Regions from separate parts of the Homo sapiens genome. Here region 2 is linked to region 1. The links come from fine-mapping of genetic effects on gene expression. Tissue or cell type: whole blood. Region 1 holds a variant in brackets; the other region holds the start of a gene. All regions are shown on one strand. Distances are between the middles of the regions.

The links.
Region 2: SPART starts here. The variant in region 1 is fine-mapped to the expression of SPART in whole blood (INTERVAL, PIP above 0.99).

What each region holds. Positions count from the first base shown.
Region 1 is chr13:36,320,201-36,325,577 of GRCh38, reverse strand. All of the region lies in intron 5 of SPART (spartin), which reads left to right. Among named protein-coding and RNA genes, the nearest start is that of SPART, 24 kb to the left of the region's middle. RefSeq lists enhancers at 1,012-1,306, 2,844-3,545, 3,546-4,248, 4,951-5,377. The variant A/G (reference allele first, on the strand shown) is at 2,528.
Region 2 is chr13:36,343,682-36,349,058 of GRCh38, reverse strand. It overlaps SPART (spartin), which reads left to right and starts at 2,665. Exons shown (of 9, transcript NM_015087.5): 1 at 2,665-2,834. SPART-AS1 (SPART antisense RNA 1) reads right to left here and starts at 2,628. Exons shown (of 5, transcript NR_045181.1): 1 at 2,552-2,628. RefSeq lists a silencer at 2,767-2,816.

The sequences.
Region 1 (5,377 bases):
TCACCATTCAGTGTGTCAAATTCATAACCCCATTAAATGGGTCTTGACTCATTTAAACGACTGTCAATTCAGATTTCCATGTCCACTAAAATCCATTTTAAAAGATGTCTAAAGCAGAGGAAATCTTCAACATAAAAAACCAACAAGCTAAAATAATTAGCTTGCTAGGAACTAATAAAATACTTTTCCTAGTGCCAAAGAACTATGCTTGAGACAAGAAAAAAAGATAGAGCCAAATTTTAAAATGTAGTTGCGATAGTTAAAATTGACTTGAAAGAGATTTACAAAGAAACTGCAATGAAAAATCTTTTCACTTTTACTACCCTACCCCCCAACTTTATAGGCTGCTAAGCATTATTATTAGGAGGCCATCATTCAGAAAACTTGCTTGTTACCCCAACACACTAAATTCAAAGGTCGTTTTCCCAAGTTTTTGGAATTTATACTTGTCAGGCCTCTGAGCCCAAGCCAAGCCATCACATCCGCGGTGACTTGACGTATATGCCCAGATGGCCTGAAGTAACTGAAGAATCACAAAAGAAGTGAAAATGCCCTCCTCTGCCTTAACTGATGACATTCCACCACAAAAGAAGTGAAAATGGCTGGTCCTTGCCTTAAGTGATGACATTACCTTGTGAAAGTCCTTTTCCTGGCTCATCCTGGCTCAAAAAGCTCCCCCACTGAGCACCTTGCGACCCCCACTCCTGCCTGCCAGAGAACAAATCCCCTTTGACTGTAATTTTCCTTTATCTACCCAAATCCTATAAAACGGCCCCACCCTTATCTCCCTTCGCTGACTCTCTTTTCGGTCTCAGCCCGCTTGCACCCAGGTGAAATAAACAGCCTTGTTGCTCACACAAAGCCTGTTTGGTGGTCTCTTCACATGCACGCAAGTGAAAATACTGTTACAAGTTTGTTCCATTTACTACTGCTATGTAACAAACTGCCCCAAACCCAAAGGCACAAAACAACAAACATTTGTTTCTGTGGAATTCAGTGGGCCAGGTATTTGGAAAGGTCACAGCAGGAGTGGCTTATATCTCTTTCATGGTATCTAAGGGCTTCATCTGGGAAGACTCAAAGGCTAGCTAGTGACTTGACAATAAGCTGAAGACTGGAATCATTACTGACACCTCTGGCATCTAGGCTGGGAGAGGTCAAAGTCTAGGACTGCCAAATAGAGTGCCTACACATGGCCTCTTGTGGCTGGACTTCCACCTAGCATGGTGGCCTTAGGCTAGTCTGGCTTCTACCTAGTGACTTGGGGCTTCAAATGTGAATCATCCAGCAAACAGACAGAAGCTGCATTACCATTTCTGACATACTCTTGGAAATTTCCAACATCATTTGGAAATTTGTTGTTAAAAGCAAACAACAAGCCAGCCCAGATGCAAGGAATGTGACATAGACCCCACTTCCCTCTGGGAAGAATGTCAAGATCTTGTGGAAAGATTAACATTCAGAATAGCAGGCACTGTTTGTGGTCATCTTCAGAAATTTTTTCATCAGCTGCCACTAAATCTCAGGCCTCCTAGGTACTATAGATAGCACACCATGGTGCTACCGGAAGCAGTACAGCCAGTTAATCCTGGGAAGAGGTCTCTTTGTAGATTTCAAAAGAACTTTCAGCAGTGCATAATTTTAAAACAAGCAAAAACTGTGTTCTGGTAACACTCAGAGGACTTCTTTATTACTTAAGACCTCAGTTTCTTCGTGCCAGTACCTCTTTTCCTTTTTATTCTATACCTTCAGGGCTGGGGTTCTAGTAATGTCCTCATAGTTGGTAACTGTAAACTATTTAACTGCCTATCAGCGTATATGTCTCTTTATGAGCTTTTTAATAGGTAGAACGAGTAGTTCGTCAAATGTTTATGGTACAAGTAAAACAAAGGGGGGCAGAAAATTAATAAAGATTTACTCCAGGGAAAATTATCTGATCTATCAAGAGACTATTGTTACCTGACTGATTCAGTCTATGTACAAAATGAGTAACCAGGGATATAAATTGAGCTCATTCATCTTAGCCCATAATTGGTGCCTGTCCACTGTCAAAGAATAAGTAAAGATCACTAAAAGCTAGTCTGAGGTTCTCCTAATGTAAAAGGTAAAAAAAGTAAAACAACCATGCTGAAAGTTTACCTGTATAGGCTTGAGAAACCTAGACTTAACACTTTAAGAAGGCAGCGGCTATGCAGTATCAATCGAGTAGAGCCTAGTAAGCTAATTTGGAAGGAGGTAGAGGGTTGCTGACAATAAACTGATGGAGCCCACCTTTGGAGCAATCTACCTTCAACCATTCTGAAACACTTTAGTGGTTGTGAGATAGCAAAACATCATCAAGGGTATTTGAATGTCCCCTCTCAACTCCCTAGTCTTTCCCAATTTAATTTACAGATGGACTCTGGAATGCTAGGCAAACAGTTGACATGGAGTGAGACGGAATGATCACTTTCTGCCTACCTATTCCAACATATCATCCTAGGGTTGAGAGTGAGCAGAACGGAGGCAACTATGATGCCTCCCTAAG[A/G]TTTCTCCAAGATTATGCATTTTTTGCTACCATTTTGTGCTTCTAGGCCCTAGCAAAAACTTTTCCATTTTGGTTAATTCAGTCTGTTAAAGAATAGACAAACAAGTCCTCCTATTCTTCAGTAGATTATTTCTGGGACTCCATTGGCCTAGTACAGTCTTCCAGCTGTCAGATCCACAAAGACCTTTATTCTGGCATAAATTATATAGAATGAACAAAACATCAAAGAGCAATCATATATTCAATTTATACTTTGATGGGTATAGGGTGGTTAAGTGCTAAGACAAATCATTTCTAGGTTTTTAGAGGACTACGTCAAACATAAGATACATGTCATATGATTGGAAATTCAGTAGTAGCCATGTGCTAGCCAATTTTCTGCCAATTTTCCCCCTCTCTTAGCCAGAAATAAAGACTATCAAAAGCTGAAAATAAAAAGATCAGTGATCAGTGTTTTAAACTCATATTTCTCATGATAAAAATTATTAAAACTTACCAGAAAAGTTGGGTTCTATATAATCTTAGGGTTCAGCTAGCTTTTTACCAGGAGAGAAAGCTGTGATTTGGGACTTCTGTGTTTTTGTGTTTTGTTTTGTTTTGTTTTGAGACAGAGTCTCGCTCTGTTACCCAAGTCGGAGTGCAGTGACGCTATCTCAGCTCACTGCAAACTCTGCCTTCAGGGTTTAAGTGACTCTCCTGCCTCAGCTTCCTGAGTAGCTGGGACTACAGGTGCACACCACCACACCCAGCTAATTTTTGTATTTTTAGTAAACACAAAGTTTCACCATATTGGCCAGGCTGGTCTCGAGCTTCTGACCTCAGGTGATCCGCCCAATTTGGCCTTCCAAAGTGCTGAGTTTCATGCACGTCCGTGTGAAGAGACCACCAAACGGGCTTTGTGTGAGCAACATGGCTGTTTATTTCACCTGGGTGCAGGTGGGCTGAGTCCGAAAAGAGAATCAGCAAAGGGAGATAAGGGTGGGGCCATTTTATAGGATTTGGGTAGGTAAAGGAAAATTACAGTCCAAGGGGGTTTGTTCTCTGGCGGGCAGGAGTGGGGGTCGCAAGGTGCTCAGTGGGGGTGCTTTTTGAGCCAGGATGAGCCAGGAAAAGGACTTTCACAAGGTAATGTCATCACTTAAGGCAAGGACCGGCCATTTACACTTCTTTTGTGGTGGAATGTCATCAGTTAAGGTGGGGCAGGGCATATTCACTTCTTTTGTGATTCTTCAGTTACTTCAGGCCATCTGGGCGTATATGTGCAAGTCACAGGGGACGCGATGGCTTGGCTTGGGCTCAGAGGCCTGACATTCCTGACTTCTTATATTAATAAGAAAAATAAAACAAAATAGTGTTGAAGTGTTGGGGCAGCAAAAATTTTTGGGGGGTGATATGGAGAGAGAATGGGCGATGTTTCTCAGGGCTGCTTCAAGCGGGATTAGGGGCGGCGTGGGAACCTAGAGTGGGAGAGATTAAGCTGAAGGGAGGTCTTGTGGTAAGGGGTGATATTGTGGGGTTGTTAGAAGAAACATTTGTCGTGTAGAATGATTGGTGATGGCCTAGATACGGTTTTGGATGAATTGAGAAACTAAATGGAATAACAGAAGGAGAAAAACAGGTATAAAAGGTCTAAGAATTGGGACGACTCAGGATATCTGATTAGAGAGCGCCTAAGGAGATTCAGCATAGTCCTGCCAGCAAAGATTATTTATTTACTTCAAGAGTTAAGAGTGGCAGTTTGGGGACAGCACCAGGAGATATCAGCTGTGATGGCTTGGAAAAACAGTGTAAACTGGCAGTGTAAACAAGAGCAGGGCATGTATGAGTAGTTGAGAACGGTGAATAGGAGTATGAGTAGACAGAAGATAGTAGGGATGACAGGTTTTCTGGGGCACAGTCTAAGTTGGTCTGGTGTCTCGAATGAGACTGGGGCCTAATAAGGAGCGTCTGTACGGGAGCTTAAATGGGCTGTACCCTGTAGCATTCCGAGGACAGGCCTGAATTCTGAGAAAGGAAAGTGGTAAAAGTATTGTCCAGTCCTTTTTAAGTTGGTGGCTGAGCTTGGTGAGGTGTGTTTTTAAAAGACCTTTAGTCTATTCTACTTTTCTTGAAGATGGAGGACCGTAAGGGATATAAAGGTTTCACTGAATACTAAGAGCCTGAAAAACTGCTGGCTGATTTGACTAATAAAGGCTTGTCTGTTGTCAGACTGTATTGAGGTGGGAAGGCTAAACTGAGGAATTATGTCTGACAGAAGGGAAGAAATGACTGCAGTGGCCTTCTCAGACCCTGTAGGAAAGGACTCTACCTATCCAGTGAAAGTGTCTACCTAGACTAAGAGGTATTTTAGTTATCTGACTCGGGGCATGTTGAGTAAAGCTAATTTGCCAGTCTTGGGTGGGAGCAAATCCTCGAGCTTGATGTGTAGGGAAGGGAGGGGGCCTGAATAATCCCTGAGGAGTAGTAGAATAGCAGATGTAACACTGAGAAGTTATTTCCTTGAGGATAGATTTCCACGATGGAAAGGAAATGAGAGGTTCTAAGAGGCAGGCTAGTGGCTTGTACTATAGCATAGCCTGCCTTTGCTGGTGTGTGGCGATTAGGCCTGGTGGAACTGCCATCAATAAATCAAGCGTGATCAGGGTAAGGAACAGGAAAGAAGGAAATTTGGGGAAATGGGGTGAATGTCAGGTGGATCAGAGAGATACAGTCATGGGGGTCAGGTGTGGTATCCAGAATAATGCGAGAGGCCGGATTGGAGTCTGGGCCAGGAACAACGGTAATTGTGGGAGACTCAACAAAGAGTGAGTACAGCTGAAGGCGCCGGGAAGCAGAAAGTATATGCGTCAG
Region 2 (5,377 bases), 23 kb before region 1:
CTCCCGACCTCAGGTGATCCGCCTGCCTCGGCCTCCCAAAGTGCTGGGATTACAGGTGTGAGCCACCATGCCTGGCCTGCAGCTTTGTAGTTAAGTTTTGAAATTGGAATGTGTCAGTCCTCCAACTTCATTCTTCTTTTTCAAGATCTGTGTGTGTGTGCTCATGTGGCTATTCTGGGTCCTTATATTTCCCTGGATTGTATGAATTTTAGGATCAGCTTGCAAAATTCTGCAAAAAAGTCATTTGGGATCTTGACACGGATTGTGTTGCGTCTGGAGGTCCATTTGAGAAGTACTGCCATCTTCCCAATATGAAGTCTTTCAACCCTTTAACATGGGATGTCTTTCCATTTATTTAGGTCTTTAAGTTCTTTCAGCAATGTTGTATGGTCTTCAGCATACAAGTCTTGCACTTATTACATTTATTTCTAAGTATTTTATTCTTCTTGATAATATTATGAATGGAATTAATTTCATTTTTGAAATGTTCATTGCTAGTGTATAGAAATACTATTGATTTCTGTATGTTGACCTGTTGTCCTGAATCCTTGATGTACTCATTTATTAGTTCTAACAGTGTTGTAGTAAATTCTTTAGGGTTTTCTATATATAACAATTTTGTGTATAGAAATTCTACATGTTTTAAACACATTCATCTTTATGGCTGTTGGAAATTTAAAAAATTCTATTTAAATGTATGTACTTTTTAAATGTAAAGAAGTAGAGTAGATGACCAATAAAAGATTTCCTTTCTTTTTTTGGTGGGGGCCAGGGGGTACAGGGTCTGGCTCTATTGCCCAGGCTGGGGTGCAGTGGCACAATCTCAGTCACTGCTGCCTCTGCCTCCCCAGCTCAGGTGATCTTCCTGCCTCAGCCTCTGGAGTAACTGGGACTACAGATGTGTACCACCATGCCCAGCTAATTTTTGTGTTTTTTTGTAGGGACGGGTTTCGTCATGTTGCCCAGGCTGGTCTCGAACTCCTGGGCTCAAGCGATTCTCTTGCCTCGGCCTCTGGAGTAGCTGGGACTACAGGCATAAGCCACCAAGCCTGGCCAATATTTGCAAGACTAAAGAAATATTGACATACAATTTCACAATATGGAACGGAAATATGAGTTCAAGAAGAAAAGAAATGATGTAAAATTTCCTTCTGTTAAAAGCTTGTTCATGTAGTTTTAAAAATTGATGATTTTAGATATTAAATTGGTATTTAGATTCCACTGGCTACATTTAAAAGTTATATAACTTTTATTTTAAAATGTTAATTTATAATAAAACAGAAGTTGCTTCTTTTGTAACTATTTAAGTCAGATGAGAAATTGTGATGGTCAATCCAAAAACGTGGAAGTGAGAATACAGTCATAGTCTTTGGGGACTCCTTTGGGGGTATAAGAGCAAAATCATTTTGAAACCACTGTATTAATATATTCCTAATAGGTTTTGCTTTTTGGGATGACTGACTGCTACCTTTCTGAGATTTGAGGGAGTCACTTAACTGGTCCTAAGGCCAGGCGCGGTGACTCACGCCTGTAATCCCAGCACTTTGGGAAACTGAGGCAGGTGGATCGCTTGAGGTCAGGAATTCGAGACCAGCCTGGCTAACTTGAGGTCAAGCTTTCAAGACCAGCTTGGCCAATATGGTGAAACCCCGTCTCTACTAAAAATACAAAAATTAGACGGGAGTGGTGGTGCACAGCTGTAATTCCAGCTTCTCTGGAGGCTGAGGCATGAGAGTCGCTTGAACCTGGGAAGCAGAGGTTGCAGTGAGCCGAGATCATGCCACTGCACTCCAGCCTGGGCAACATAGTAAGACTCTGTCTCAAAACAAAACAAAAACACAACAACAACAAAACTGGTTCTAAATGCTCCGGGCAAGTACATACTGCTTTTTCTTTTTTCTGTTTTTTTTTCCCTAAGGCAGCCCTATTGAAGAGTCTGTCATCTACAATATTTTACTAATTTAAAAACACTTGTCAAGAAGGGTAAAGTATGTTCATCTTGATTTTACTCTTTGTATCCCGGAATCAGGAACTAACAGTTTTATGATAGTGATATAGACTTTACACACACACCAAGACTTAAAACACGTGGTGCAGGCGGGCTTTTGGAAATTAACTGTGCTCTGGATACAGAAGTCACAAAGCTCAGGCTGCAGAGACATTGAGGGGATAATCAGCCTTTATTGTCTCTCGTGCACTGTGCCCAGCGCTCCCTCTAGCGGCTACAAGCGCTCACTGCCCACACTCTCTACTAGGCTCTCCGGAGGCCTCGGTTTCGCTGGAGAGAAAGAGATTGCGCAGGCGCCGAGCAGCCGACGTGGCCGCAGGGGACCGTGCCTGGGGGGGTCTGCGCGGGGCCGCTGACTCGCGAGGTTCTCTGTCGCCTGCCGCCCTCGCTCCTTTTCTCCCCTTCTAGAGTGTTACGGTGACTCTTGGGTCCGAAGGGGACGGACGTCCTCCCACGTACCATTTAGAAGGTCAGAGTGGGCAGAACCTAGTCTGAGCAGGCCGGTGATGAATCCGCTGGCAAGACGCGCGCGTGGGTACTCACGTGACCTAGGCTGCGGCGGCGGCGTGCTGCGGGCTCTGTGGCGGGAGCGAGGCCGACGGGCGGGGCCGCGCGGCCGCGTGACGCGAAGCGTTCGAGAGCGCGCGTCGTGGAACGTCTTGGTTGCCACGGCAAGCGCGCGCGCGAGGCCTTGGGAACCTCGGGACCGGCCCCCGGCGAGCGCAGCGGCGCCCAGTGTAAGGGAGTGGGAGCTGGTCCGTGCCGCGGCGGCCGCGCAGGGAGCTCTCGAGGCAACGCCGGGGCGCCCGAGGTCTGGAAGGCGCAGGTGGGGCGCGGGGGAGTTCACCCCTGCGCGGTCCCTTGGGTGGGCGGGGTGGGCGCCCCAGGCCCCGCGGACTCGGCTGGGAGGCTGAGCGGGCGACGGTCACGGGACAAGGGTGGAGGGGGTGGGGACCTCATCCGAGTCTCAGAGATGGAATTTTCGAGGAAGGGAGCGATTTCGAGAGAGAATAGTTTGAGAAGTTGTTCTCAGTCCCTTCTCTCGCGGGAGTGTGGTATTTAGGGAAGCTTCGGCCTCTTAACCCATGGACTGTTAGGATGGAGGGAATCCTTCCCGCTCGATTCCTATCGCGGAGTCCTTTCGGAGCATCGCTATTGATCATTCTCGCCGCCCCAACCCCGTTGTTTACTTTGGCTTCGCAGATCTCTGTGGTCTTTTGCCCTCCCGCAGCGCCCATGGCCCCGTCAAGGTTGGGCAGCCTTTCTCTGCAAGAAGGCCCACGAACAACTGCGGTTATATTGGGATGGATTGCGCGTGATTTTACTCTTTACAATACATTCTTTCATGCTTCCTAGGGATTGAGCTGCGCGGCGGATCCCTCCGACTTAATTCTGGGCCTGAGAAAAGTTTCTCTTGGAATGCGCAGTTTCGTGACGCAGCATTATTGCGTGACTCTAGGGCTGACCCAGTTTTTCACTTTCTAATTGTAAGGAAGTGCGCTAGTAGTCCACCGAGGATCCTCGAGGTTGGCCTTATTGTATCATAATTTAACGAATTTGCGTTCCAGGTTGTTACAGCCTTTGAAATAATGGCCTCATATTTAAGAATGTAGCAATTTTTCTTTGAAATTTCCGAAAGTGGGGAAAAAAGTAATAGAAGACTGCACCTATATGGAATTATTTTCTGATTCGCAGTTCTTTATAATCGTAGACTTAATTTGGTGGCTTTATTGGACCTGTTTGAAACAGGAAGCCTTTCTGTAATGTGGTTTCGGGTCGGCTTCACCTCTGGCACTCTCTGAAACGTCGTTGTCTATGGTTTCCCTAAGAAGCTAGAATGAGCGGGATGCTACGGAGGGAGGTGTATACAGGTGTTAGACAAAGCCCCCTCCGCTTTTTTGGTAAAGGGCCAAATAGGCATTAGATCAACTTGTGCTAGCTCTAAGGAGTTAAATGCGGTATTATTAAAGACTGCTTGTAATGTTGACTGTTAAGTGAGAGTGTTACTTCTTTCAGTGTTTATGGAATCGAACTAAATTGCTAGGTATTTTAATGCAGAATTTTACCTTTTCTCGGGTATTTTTTAAGACATACACAGACATACATGTAGTTATGTTGAAATAAATGTGTTTTATTAGAACGTTAAAAAATTAGAATTTAGGTGAACTACTGGTATCGGAACAGATTTTGGTTTGTTGTTGAAGACTGTACACTGGTGTAGGTACTGTTTAATACATCAGATTGTCATTTCAAAGACTTTGTCTTCTTAACTTTGAAAATTAAATAATGTGAAATAATGTGATAATGGTTTTTATCTTTTCAGGACACTTGATTGACACTTAATTGTGCTTAGGAATAGAATAGGCTTTTTTTTAAGTCACCATCCTCCAATCCTTATTTCTGTAAAATGTATTTTCTGAGACCGCTGAGGATATAGCAAATCCCAGTCACAAAATAAAAATGTGATATTTTAATATAAACCTTTTTCTTTCTGTGTTGAGATTCCCCAGAGATTAGACTGAAATTGACCATTAGACTTATATATAACCTCTAGATACCCAGGCTCTTCTCTCGTGTATCCTTTTTTTCTCTTTAAGATGGAGATGTAGCAAGGAAGGTTATTAAGCAATCCTGTGGAATTAGCCCTCCCACTCCACCCCTACACACAGGCACACTCTTCTTTCTCAGTAGCCATCTTGTTCCCTCCATTGACACATTATTAGGAAATCTTTCATCACACCGTATGTAAAATAAGCTTAGAAATAAACGTATACCCAAGGTAAATATTGCTTCTAGCTATATTCCTTCATTATGCCTCGCTTCTACTTTCAAATGCTACCTATTGAAGATTTAAGCCACATGACTTTCTACGACGGGACACTCTGGGTTTTCTTCACCCCTCCCTCACTCTGCTGACTTGTAAACATAGTAGGACTTTTAGATTTGGAATCAAACACATCTCATCTAATTTTCATTTTCATTTTTCTTTTCTTTCTTTCTTTTTTTTTTTTTTTTAAAGAGACAAGGTCTTGCTCTGTCACCCAGGCTGGTTGGAGTGCAGTGGTGCAGTCATAGCTCACTGCAACCTTGAACTTCTGGGCCCAAGCGATCCTCCGGCCTCAGCCTGTGCAGTAGCTGGGATTACAGGCGAGAGCTCATTTAATTTTCTTGACAGATAATCTTCTGATCCATGAACTGATTTGAATGTATCATTTACTAGCTCTCTTCTTGGGCAAGCTGCTCAATATTTGTAAAACATTTTTAAAATCAGATATCAACCTCCAAGAGTGAGGATTGGATAACCTTAGAAGGGTGCCAGACACATATAGAGAGCTTAACAAAAGATAGTAAATTTTGGTGCTTCTGAGG